Linked DNA regions of Homo sapiens. The protein of the gene in region 1 purifies or fractionates together with the protein of each later gene. This does not show direct contact. Each region holds a gene or a part of one and is shown on either strand. Other genes may lie near its edges.

Region 1 (3,653 bases):
GCAACCTCCACCTCCCAGGTTCAAGCAATTCTCCTGCCCCAGCCTCCTGAGTAGCTGGGATTACAGGCGCCCGTCACCGTGCCTGGCTAACTTTTGTAGTTTTAGTAGAGACGGGGTTTCACCATGTTGGCCAGGCTGGTCTCGAACTCGTGACCTCGTGATCCACCCACCTCGGCCTCCCAAATTGCTGGGATTACAGGCGTGAGCCACAGCGCCCGGCCTGGAATATTTTTAAACAATTTTTTTTTTAAGAAAGTTCCGTCACCCAGGCTGGAGCACAGTGGCATGATCATGGCCCACTGCAGCCCAGACCTCCTGGGCTCAGGCGATCCTCCCATATCGATGCTGGGTGTATGCCACCACTCCTGGTTAATTTTTTTTTTTTTTTTTTAATAGAGATGAAGTCTCACTATGTTGCCCCCAGGCTGGTCTTGAATTTCTGGCTTCAAGCGATCCTTCTTCCTGGCCTCCCAAAGTGTTAGGTATGAAATACCGTGCCAGGCCTAAATTCTCCTGCCTCAGCCTCCCGAGAAGGTGGGATTACAGGCATGTGCCACCACACATGGCTAATTTTTGTATTTTTTGTAGAGATGGGGTTTCACCATGTTGGCCAGACTGGTCTCCAACTCGTGACTTCAAGTGATCTCCCTGTCACGGCCTCCCAAAGTGTTGGGATTACAGGTGTGAGCCACCATGTCTGACCTCTTTTTCTTTTCTGATTGCATTGTATTTCTAGAACAAAGTTAAATAATAGGGATGACACTGAGTAACTTGTTTCATTCCTGACTTTAATGAGAATGCTGTTAGTGTTTTTGCCATTTAAGTGCCATGCTGGGGTGTGTTGCTAATGTTGTGGGGAGCTTTTTGTTTTTGTTCCTGCTCCCTCACTGATGTTTTTAAAATAAAAAATGGTGATTGAGTTTTCTCAAATGCCAGTGTACATCTGTGGAATGATCATAGAGATTTTCTTCTTTTATCTGTTAACATAATGAGTTATAGTAATGGATTTATATTATTGAATCATCATTGTATTCCTGGGATAAACTCTCTTATTGTATAGCCAGATTCTATTTATTCATTTATTTTTTATTTTTATTTTTTGAGGCGGGGTTTCACTCTGTTGCCCAGGCTGGAGTGCAGTGGCACGATCTCGGGTCACTGCAACTTCTGCCTCCCAGGTTCAAGCAATTCTCTGGCCTCAGCCTCCCGGGTAGCTGGGATTACAGGCACCTGCCACCATGCCCGGCTAATTTTTGTATTTTTAATGGAGACGGGATTTTGCCATGTTGACCAGGCTGGACTCGACCTACTGACCTCAGATAATCTGCCTGCCTCAGCCTCCCAAAATGCTGGGATTATAAGGCGTGAGCCACCGCACCTGGCCTATTTATTAATATTTTATTTTGAAATTTTACATCATGAGGCCGGGCTCGGTGGCTCACGCCTGTAATCCCAGCACTTTGGGAGGCCGAGGCAGGCTGATCACGAGGTCAGGAGATCGAGACCATCCTGGCTGACGGGTGAAACCCCGTCTCTACTAAAAAATACAAAAAAAATTAGCCAGGCGTGGTGGCGGGCGCCTGTAGTCCCAGCTACTCAGGAGGCTGAGGTAGGAGAATGGCATGAATCCGGGAGGTGGAGCTTGCAGCGAGCCCAGATTGCACCACTGCACTCCAGCCTGGGCGACAGAGCAAGACTCCATCTCAAAAAAAAAAAAAGAAAGAAAAAGAAATTTTACATCATTTGTGAGAATAGTCTGTAATTTTCTCTTATGCAACCTTTATCAAGTTGTTTTAGTGTTTTCTATAGCTTTGTAAAAAGTTTCTTACATAACATTTTATTCTAAACTTTTATTTTTATTATTATTATTATTATTTTTTTGAGACGGAGTCTCGCTGCATCACCCAGGCTGGAGTGCAGTGGCGCGATCTTGGCTCACTGCAAGCTTTGCCTCCCGGGTTCACGCCATTCTCCTGCCTCAGCCTCCCAAGTAGCTGGGACTACAGGTGCCCACCAACACACCTGGCTAATTTTTTGTATTTTTTTTAGTAGAGACGGGGTTTCACCGTGTTAGCCAGGATGGTCTCAATCTCCTGACCTCGTGATCCGCCTGCCTTGGACTCCGAAAGTGCTGGGATTACAGGTGTCAGCCACCGCACCCGGCCATTTTATTCTAAACTTTTAGCCAGCTTAAGAATTTTTTAAATTATTTGTTTAAAATTTGGTAGAAATTCTCTTGTAAAACTGTCTAAGCCTGGTGCCTTTCTATTTATTTATTTATTTATTTATTTAAATTTTTTGGTACAGGCAGGTCTTGCCACGTTGCCTAGGCTGGTCTTGAACTTCTCTCTCAAGCAGTCCTTCCACCTCTGTCCCCCAAAGTATTGGGATTATAGGCATGAGCCACCACCCTAGCCAGTGCTGTTTCAGAATATAGCACTTCGGTAACTACTACAGTGTCTTCTACGTCTGTTTAGAATTTGCTATGTCCTGGTTTCAGTTTTGGTGGTTTATGTATTCTTATAAAATTACCAATTTAATTCACCTTTTCTCCTCTGTAGCTATGGCCATTTCCCTAGTTTTCTTCCCTGTTTTTTGTAATTAGGGTTTTTCCTCCGTTTTCCTCTTTTTTTTTTTTTTTTTTTTTTTTGAGTCTCACTCTTGTTGTCCAGGTTGGAGTGCAATGGCATGATCTTGGCTCATTGCAACCTCCGCCTCCCAGTTTCAAGCGATTTTCCTGCCTCCGCCTCCCGAGTAGCTGGGATTACAGGTATGTGCCACCACACCCAGCTAATTTTGTATTTTTAGTAGAGACAGGGTTTCTCCATGTTGGTCAGGCTGGTCTCAAACTCCCAACCTCAGATGTTCCACCCGCCTTGGCCTCCCAAAGTGTTGGGATTACAGGCGTGAGCCACCGCGCCTGGCCTGCTTTTTCCTCCTGATTTAGGCTAGTCAGTAATATATCTAATATCCATACATACACTGAAGTGGGGAAATATATATACACACACACATACACACACACACATGTTTTGTGCTCCATCAAAGAAAATATCTCTTTTTAGTTCTGGGGGATGCTGAGAAGTGGAGAGAACAGGTTCTTTCTGAAGGGGACAGCAGCTACCACACCCTGTCCTGTTGCTGCCTGGCAGGAATGTGGTCCCAGAGTGGCCAGATTGTCCAGTCTTTCTGGAAAAGACTAGCTGGTGTTTTTTTTAGTTTGTTTTGTTTTGTGTTTGAGATCGGGTTTGGCTCTACACCCGGACTGGAGTGCTGCAGTGCAGTCATGGCTCACTGCAGCCTCTGCCTCTCAGGGTCAAATGGTCTTCGCACCTCAGCCTTACAAGTAGCTGGGACTACAGGCACCCACCACCATGCCTAGCTAATTTTTGTATTTTTTGTAGAGACAGAGTTTTGCCATGTTGCCCAGGCTGGACTTGAACTCCTGAGCTCAAGTGATCCACCCGCCTAAGCCTCCCAAAGTGCTGGGATTACAGGCATGAGCCAGTGCACCCGGCCTTTTGTTTGTTTATATAGTTTTTTTTTTGTCTTAGTGTGTGTGCTTGTGTGTGTGTGTGTAGTATTGCCAACTTTTTTAACATTGGTAAGTAACTCAGATGAGAACAATTTTGGAGGTTAAAAAAAAAACCCCA
Region 2 (3,653 bases), on another chromosome or scaffold:
CCTTAAGTTAGATTCATGGGAGGGCTCTTACCAGGTCAAAGTCGTGTGGTGCAAAGTTGCTTTGGGCAGGCCCATGTGAATTCCTGATACCAGAACTTCCTAAGCCTGGACAGACATTACCAGCTTTCTCAGCTCTTCTCAGTGCACTTTGGGGTTCAAGGTGAGACCTGGTTACCTCTATCTCCAGGAAAACAGGTGGAGAGAGCAGAAGCAAGCCTTTACTCTGGTGAGCAATTGGGCGATGATAATAATAGTAGTTGTGACATTATTCACTGCCTCCTATATGCCAGGCCCAACAAACGCATCAGCAGAACAAACCAAATGACTCATAGGCCAAGGAAGAAATGGAAATTAGAAAATATTTAGAATTGAGGCCAGGTGTGGTGGCTCACACCTGTAATCCCAGCACTCTGGGAGGCCAAGACGGGCGGATCACTTGAGGTCAGGAGATCAAGGCCAGCCATCCTTTGCCAACATGGCAAAACCCTGTCTCTACTAAAAATATTTAAAAAGTAGCTGGGCGTGGTGGCATGGGCCTGTAGTCCCAGCTACTCGGAATGGAAGACTGAGGCAGGAGAATCACTTGGACTTAGGAGGCAGAGGTTGCAGTGAGCTGAGATCACACCACTGCACTCCAGCCTGGGCAACAGAGCGAGACTCCATCTCAAAAAAAAAAAAAAGAAAAGAAAATGATTGAAATACTACTGCATGTCAGGATGTGTGGGATGCAGTGAGAGCAATACACAGAAGGAAATTTAAAGCCTTCAGTCTTACAAAAGAAGGAAGGATGGGCCAGGCGCAGTGGCTTATGCCTGTAATCCCAGCACTTTTGGAGGCCGAGGCGGGCGGATCACGAGGTCAGGAGATCGAGACCATCCTGGCTAACACAGTGAAACCCCATCTCTACTAAAAATACAAAAAAATTAGCCGGGCATGGTGGCGGGGGCCTGTAGTCCCAGCTACTCGGGAGGCTGAGGCAGGAGAATGGCATGAACCTGGGAGGCGGAGGTTGCAGTGAGCCGAGATCATGCCACTGCCCTCCAGCCTGGGCAACAGAGCGAGACTCCGTCTCAAAATACGCTGTGAGGAGCATCTTTAAAAAAGCAAAACTCTAAAGAGAGAGGATGACAAAACAGCCTTAAACCAGTACCTTTAAGAATTTAGACAAAATGGGGCTGGGCGTGGTGTCTCACACCCGTAATCCTAGCACTTTGGGAGGCTAAGGCAGGTGGATCACTTGAGGCCAGGAGTTTAAGACCAGCCTGGCCAACATGGCAAAACCTTGTCTCTACTAAAAATATAAAAAATTAGCTGGGCATGGTGTCGCGCACCTGTAATCCCACCTATTTGGGAGGCTGAGGCACAAGAATTGCTTGAACCCGGGAGGCAGAGGTTGCAGTGAGCCAAGATTGCGCCACAGCATTCCAGCCTGGGCAATAGAGTGAGACCCTGTCTAAAAAAAAAAGAATTTAGACAAAATGGGCACTTTATTAGAATAACATTTATTAATTTCCAGTTGCTTCTGCAACAAATTACCATCAACTTAGTGGCTTAAAAGAACACCAGTTTGGCTAGGCGCGGTGGCTCACACCTGTAATCCCAGCACTTTGGAGAGAGATGTTTAGATCGCAGCTGCGGTAGCACTGGTATAAGAGAAGAAAAACCCTTTTCCTTCTCCCCATTTAGGTTCTTGGCTGGGGCTCTGTTACAAAAGGCAGATTAACAAGACAAAAACAGAAGTTTACTAATGTGTGTATCTCATATATTCATGGGAGAAACTTGGATAGGTGACTCAAAAGTTTAGTTGGAATTGGGTTTACACAGCCTCTTAACACAGGGACAGGCCACTTAAAGAACAATAACAGGACAGACGAAAACAGCTTATGCTTCCAAGGGCAGGAAACTGTGAGAAGATAAATACGTGGGATGAAACCGATGGAGTAAGGTTTGTTTGCAGATGCGTGCGGTGTCATCTCTGGGCTGATAGGAATCTAGAATTGTCTCCAATAAAGGAGAACGTATATCCAGCTTTTAGGCAGAAAGGGGGAGGGAGGGCAGAAAGAGCTTTTCCTGTGTTTGCTGCTACTTAATTGCCTTCAGCTCAAAATACTTCTTATGTCAAAAGGGCATATTTTGGGATGGCATATTGTAGTTTCCTTCCCTGGCTACTCAGAAATAGAAGAAATCAGAACAGATCCCACCTTTCAGTCCTCACCTAGGCTCATGGCTGTCCTCACTGCCCATGGACAGAGGGATCGGGGGTGGCCCAGCCACCAGCACTGACCTTGACTGACTAGTTTATCTTGTAATTGTCTTTCTAGAAAATCAATGTGTACATTTTGAGCTGAGGGCACTGCTGAGGACCTGTTTTACCCCAGGAGGCTTGGGGCTGGCTCTGTGGCCCAGGGGGATGTCTCTGGGCACCCTGAGCCCTGTAACAATGCCAGCAGCATGAGGGAGTATGGACGGGCCCTGAAACTGCAGGTCCTGCCGCTGGTTTGTGTGCAGGGCCAAGAGGCAGGAGCCCCCTGGCATACAGGGGGCCAAGTGCAGGACGTCCTCCAGGATGTGATAAGAGAAGCGCTTTACAGAACAGAGCTGCAGGGTGATCCCATTTGGGCAAATAAAGGGGGAAAGAGGAAAACATACATTTGCTTATGAATCCATTGGTGTTTGCATGTCTGGAAGGAACCAGGAAAGTCACTACAGAGAGCGAGAAAAGATTCCCTTTTCACTGAATACACATTTCTACTGTATGCATTTTTTACCATGTTTATGGATAATGTTTCAACAATTTTACATGAAAATAACTGAAATATTCATTTTAAAAGTGTCAGGCCAGACACAGTGGTTCACACCTGTAATCCCAGCACTTTGGGAGGCTGAGGCGGGCGGATCACTTGAGCCCAGGAGTTTGAGACCAGCCTGGGCAACATGGCAAAACCCCATTTCTACAAAAAGTACAAAATTAGCCAGGTGTGGTGGAGTACACCTATAGTCCCAACTACTTGGGAGGCTGAGGCAGGAGGATGGCTTCAGCTGTTGGGTTGAGGCTACAGTGAGCCGTGGTTGAGCCACTGCACTCCAGCTTGGGTGACAGAGTGAGACCCTGTCTTAATTTTTTTAAAAAGCCTCTGCTCACAACTGGTGATGACAGTAGTTACGGGAGTTGCAGGAACTTTGTCTAGAGAGTCACACAGGCAGCGTCTCTCATCCATGTGCCTTGACTGCAAGCCAGCAAGAGCCACTGACTGTTCCCAGCTGTGCCTGTAGCCCTTAGACCAAGGTCCATGAGTCCTGGGTTCCCTGGGCCTCTCTGCTCCACCCTTTGACCTGTCCGGGACTGTGCAGGGCAAGCCCTTGTCCTCTTGCCTTCCTCCAGGGAATCATCGCAGAAGAGAACAAGAACCTGCAGCCCCAGGGAGACGAGGACCCCGGGAAGTTCAAGGAGGCTGAGCTGAAGATGCGGAAGCAGTTTGGGATGCCTGAGGGCGAGAAGCTGGTGAATTACTACTCCTGCAGCTACTGGAAGGGCCGCGTGCCCCGGCAGGGCTGGCTGTACCTGACGGTCAACCACCTGTGCTTCTACTCCTTCCTGCTGGGGAAGGAAGGTGAGCCCGCCCCTCAGTGTGCCCCAGCCCCCACACCCTCAG
Region 3 (3,653 bases), on another chromosome or scaffold:
TCTTTTCTTTTTTTTTTTTTTTTTTTGAGATGGAGTTTTGTGCTTGTTGCCCAGGCTGGAGTGCAGTGGCGCGATCTCTGCTCACTCAACCACCGCCTTCTGGTTTCAAGTGATTCTCCTGACTCAGCCTCCCAAGTAGCTGGGATTACAGGCATCCGCAACCACATCCAGCTAATTTTTGTATTTTTTAGTAGAGACGGGGTTTCACCATGTTGTCCAGGCTGGTCTCAAACTCCTGACTTTGTGATCCACCCACCTTGGCCTCCCAAAGTGCTGGGATTAGAGGCGTGAGCCACTGCGCCCGGGAGAAGTTGTGATTTCAACCCACATCATGGCAAACGGAATTGTCCTGGCCAGAGCTGGTCCCCAGTGGCTGTAAAAGCAAGAAAAACATATGGAAACACAGGTGAACCAAGGTTGGCTGGCAGGTGAGCTGAAGAAGTTGGCAGCATTGCTGCGGGCATAAGACGTATTAGGAGAACCAACGGAAAGTGGTCACCAGGCCTCATGAGAGACTCTGAGCCACAATCACCCAGACGAACTGTTCTCAGGTTCTTGACCCTCAGAAACGATTCAAGAGAATAAATATTTGTTGTTTTAAGCTGTCAAGTTTTGAAATAATTTGTTATGCCACAATAGATGACTAGTTCATTGTCCCAGACTAAAAATAAACTTTCCACCCAGCTTTCTCTGCTAGCTGCTATTCTCTCTTTCTCCCCTTTCCCTCTCCAGACTCCATCAAAGGGTGGCATTTCCACCATCACTCTTCAGGCTATGGAATCTGTATGCGAAGACTTTCCAAGGGGTACATGGTATAGATAGCTTCAGGAGGATCAGCTCCCAGATGCTCAACTTTATATTTAATCTTTCCCAGAGCTGCTCTGCCTGGGAAGGAACTAGCATTTGAGGCTTCATGTAGATTCTTTTTTCACAATAGTCCTTTTTCTCTTTATTACAAAAGTAAAACTATACCTCTCACTTATCCTGAATATTTCATTGCACTGTAAGATTTCATTGCTTGGTAATTAAAAAAAAAAAAAAAAAAAAACACCTCCAGGGGACTAAATGGAAGGACAATTTGAAGTATTGCTATCAATGGTGGAGGGTGAATGACATTAATGAATGCATAAGAAAAAATTTGTTTTCAAGCTAAGTGGTTTCCAGTTCTTTGCTTTCAATAAAGTTGAAGGAGGATCTAATCAAATTGTCAGCTAATATATGATTAAAAATAATTTTTCATGATAGATCACTATGTACTTTTTGAAACACATTTCAGAAAGAGTTCAAAAATGTGAGTGACATTGCTATAATAAAACACTTTCATTTCCATCAATGTTTGATTACGTAGCTAAGCAAGGTTGCTCTGTTCTTACATCAACAAAATGAAAAGCGGAAAGACAATTGACCCTAATTCCTGTTGCAGTCTAAAATATGTAATTTTCATCAATGGATACACAAATAAACTTTTTTTAAAAAAGCTCCATCTACCTCATTAAGAGATGCATTTCCATTTTATTTTTCATTTAACAATTATTGGCCAGGCGTGGTGGCTCACGCCTGTAATCCCAACACTTTGGGAGGCCGAGGCGGGCAGATCATGAGGTCAGGAGATCGAAACCGTCCTGGCTAACACGGTGAAACCCCATCTCTACTAAAAATACAAAAAATTAGCCGGGCGTGGTGGCGGGCGCCTGTAGTCCCAGCTACTTGGGAGGCTGAGGCAGGAGAATGGCGTGAACCTGGGAGGCGGAGGTTGCAGTGAGCCAAGATCACGCCACTGCACTCCAGCCTGGGCGACAGAGCGAGACTCCATCTCAAAAATAACAATAATAATTATTATTATTTACCAAAATTTGTAATATGTTTATGTTATTTTGCTTACATGTGATTAAAAGTTGTATTGGTAACTTCATCCAAAAGAAAAAAAGAGTTTAATATTCAGAGATGTATGGTCCCAGGAGAACAAGAGAAAATCTTTCATCTCAAGTTATACATCTGTATTTTTGTAGAGAAGTATCATAGATGACCAACAAAAGACTTTCCAAGCACAGAAAAATATTACAGGTCAGGTACAGTGGCTGACACCCGTTATCCAAGCACTTTGGGAGGCAAAGGTGGGAGGACCACTTGAGCTTAGGAGTTCGAGACCAGCCTGGGCAACAAAAAGAAACCTCACCTCTATTTAAAAATCAAAAAACAAAACTAGCCCAGCGTGGTGGTGTGTGCCTGCAGTCCCAGCTACTCGGGATGCTAAGGTGGGAGGATCACTTTAGCTTGGAAGATTGAGGCTGCAGTGAGCTATTATCTTGCCACTGCACTCCAGCCTGGGTGACAGAGCAAGACCCTGTCAGAAGATAGAAAGGAAGAAAGAACGAAAGGAAGAAAATTCATGTTTTAAGTGCACAATTCAATGATTTTTAGTAAATTCCCCAAATTGTGCAGCCATCATCACAATCCAGTTCCTAATGCCTACCCCCATTAAAAAATTGTGGTAAATCTAATGTCTTTTTTTAAAAAAACTAATATTATTAAACTATTTTAACATGACATATATATATAATGTTTTGAGAAAAATAAGCAAAATATTTTAAGATATGGTTTAGCACTGTTTTTTCCTTATCCATCACTTTTATGATCCAGTTTTCCTTAACTTCCATTTATGTGATCAAAGTTAGCAGCCAGCTGTTTGTCTTCCCTATTTGTTCCACAGTTGTACACAGAAAACAGAAGTCAACAAGTTCGTCGGCTTCCCCTATCAGCTCTGTTTAACTTTCTGCAGTGATAGACTGTCACTTCTGCTGATAGACTGTCCTTTTAATAGCCACTTCCCAAACTATATTTTTAAAAAGGCATTAAGTTTTCTTTCCACTATCTCCACTGTTTTGTTTTTTTTTTTTTTTTTGAGACAGGGTCTTGCTCTGTTGCCCAGGTTGGAGCACAGTGGTGAAATCTCAGCTCACTGCAGCCTTGACCTTCTGGGCTCAAACAATCCTCCCACCTCAGCCTCCTGAGCAGATGGGATCACAGGCATGCACCACCACGCCTGGCTAATTTTTGTAATTTTTGTAGAGACACGGTCTCACTATGTTGCCCAGGCTGGTCTCAAACTCCTGCTTAAGCAATCCTCCCGCCTTGGTCTCCCAAAATGTTGGGATTACAGGTGTGAGCCAATGCGCCTGGCCTATCTCCACTTTTGATTGCCCTTTTAATATAACATTTTCTCATGGCCTAATTTGGAAATTCATGGACCCTGTCTGGTGCTCTCCTGACTGCTCCATGCCATTCAATCCTATTGACCCTTCTGTGTCCCCCGGCTCAGCTGGGATTTCCCCTAGGCCACTGACTGCTGAAATCTCTGCCAAGTTCCTCCCCTTGGCTGCTCTTTATATGCAGGCATCCCCTTAACCTCCATTCTAGGCCCTCTTCCCACTCTCCACTTGCTCTAGGTGATCTCATCCAGTCTCACAGCTTCTATGTCCCCGTCTTTTCTGAGGGCTCCAAATCCATGTCTCTGGCTCTAACCTGTGCCCCATGCAGAGGCAGAGGCTCAGAGGTGCAGCTGCTGTCTTGAGCAGCCCCCTCCAGCAGCCCCCTCAAACTCAGCACTGCCAGATGGAGCTCATTGCCTCTCTCTTTCCCCAACTCACCATGTG

Evidence for each region.
Region 2: the proteins of ABHD12 (region 1) and TBC1D9B purify together in Homo sapiens (affinity purification with mass spectrometry; one large-scale study listed by BioGRID and IntAct). This does not show direct contact.
Region 3: the proteins of ABHD12 (region 1) and FSD2 purify together in Homo sapiens (co-immunoprecipitation; one large-scale study listed by IntAct). This does not show direct contact.

What each region holds. Positions count from the first base shown.
Region 1 is NC_000020.11:25,384,329-25,387,981, reverse strand, and holds part of ABHD12 (lysophosphatidylserine lipase ABHD12), read left to right. Parts: intron 1-3,653.
Region 2 is NC_000005.10:179,894,344-179,897,996, reverse strand, and holds part of TBC1D9B (TBC1 domain family member 9B), read left to right. Parts: intron 1-3,382; coding exon 3,383-3,611; intron 3,612-3,653. UniProt on the Homo sapiens protein: May act as a GTPase-activating protein for Rab family protein(s).
Region 3 is NC_000015.10:82,795,994-82,799,646, forward strand, and holds part of FSD2 (fibronectin type III and SPRY domain-containing protein 2), read right to left. Parts: intron 374-3,653; exon of another isoform or gene 257-373; intron 1-256.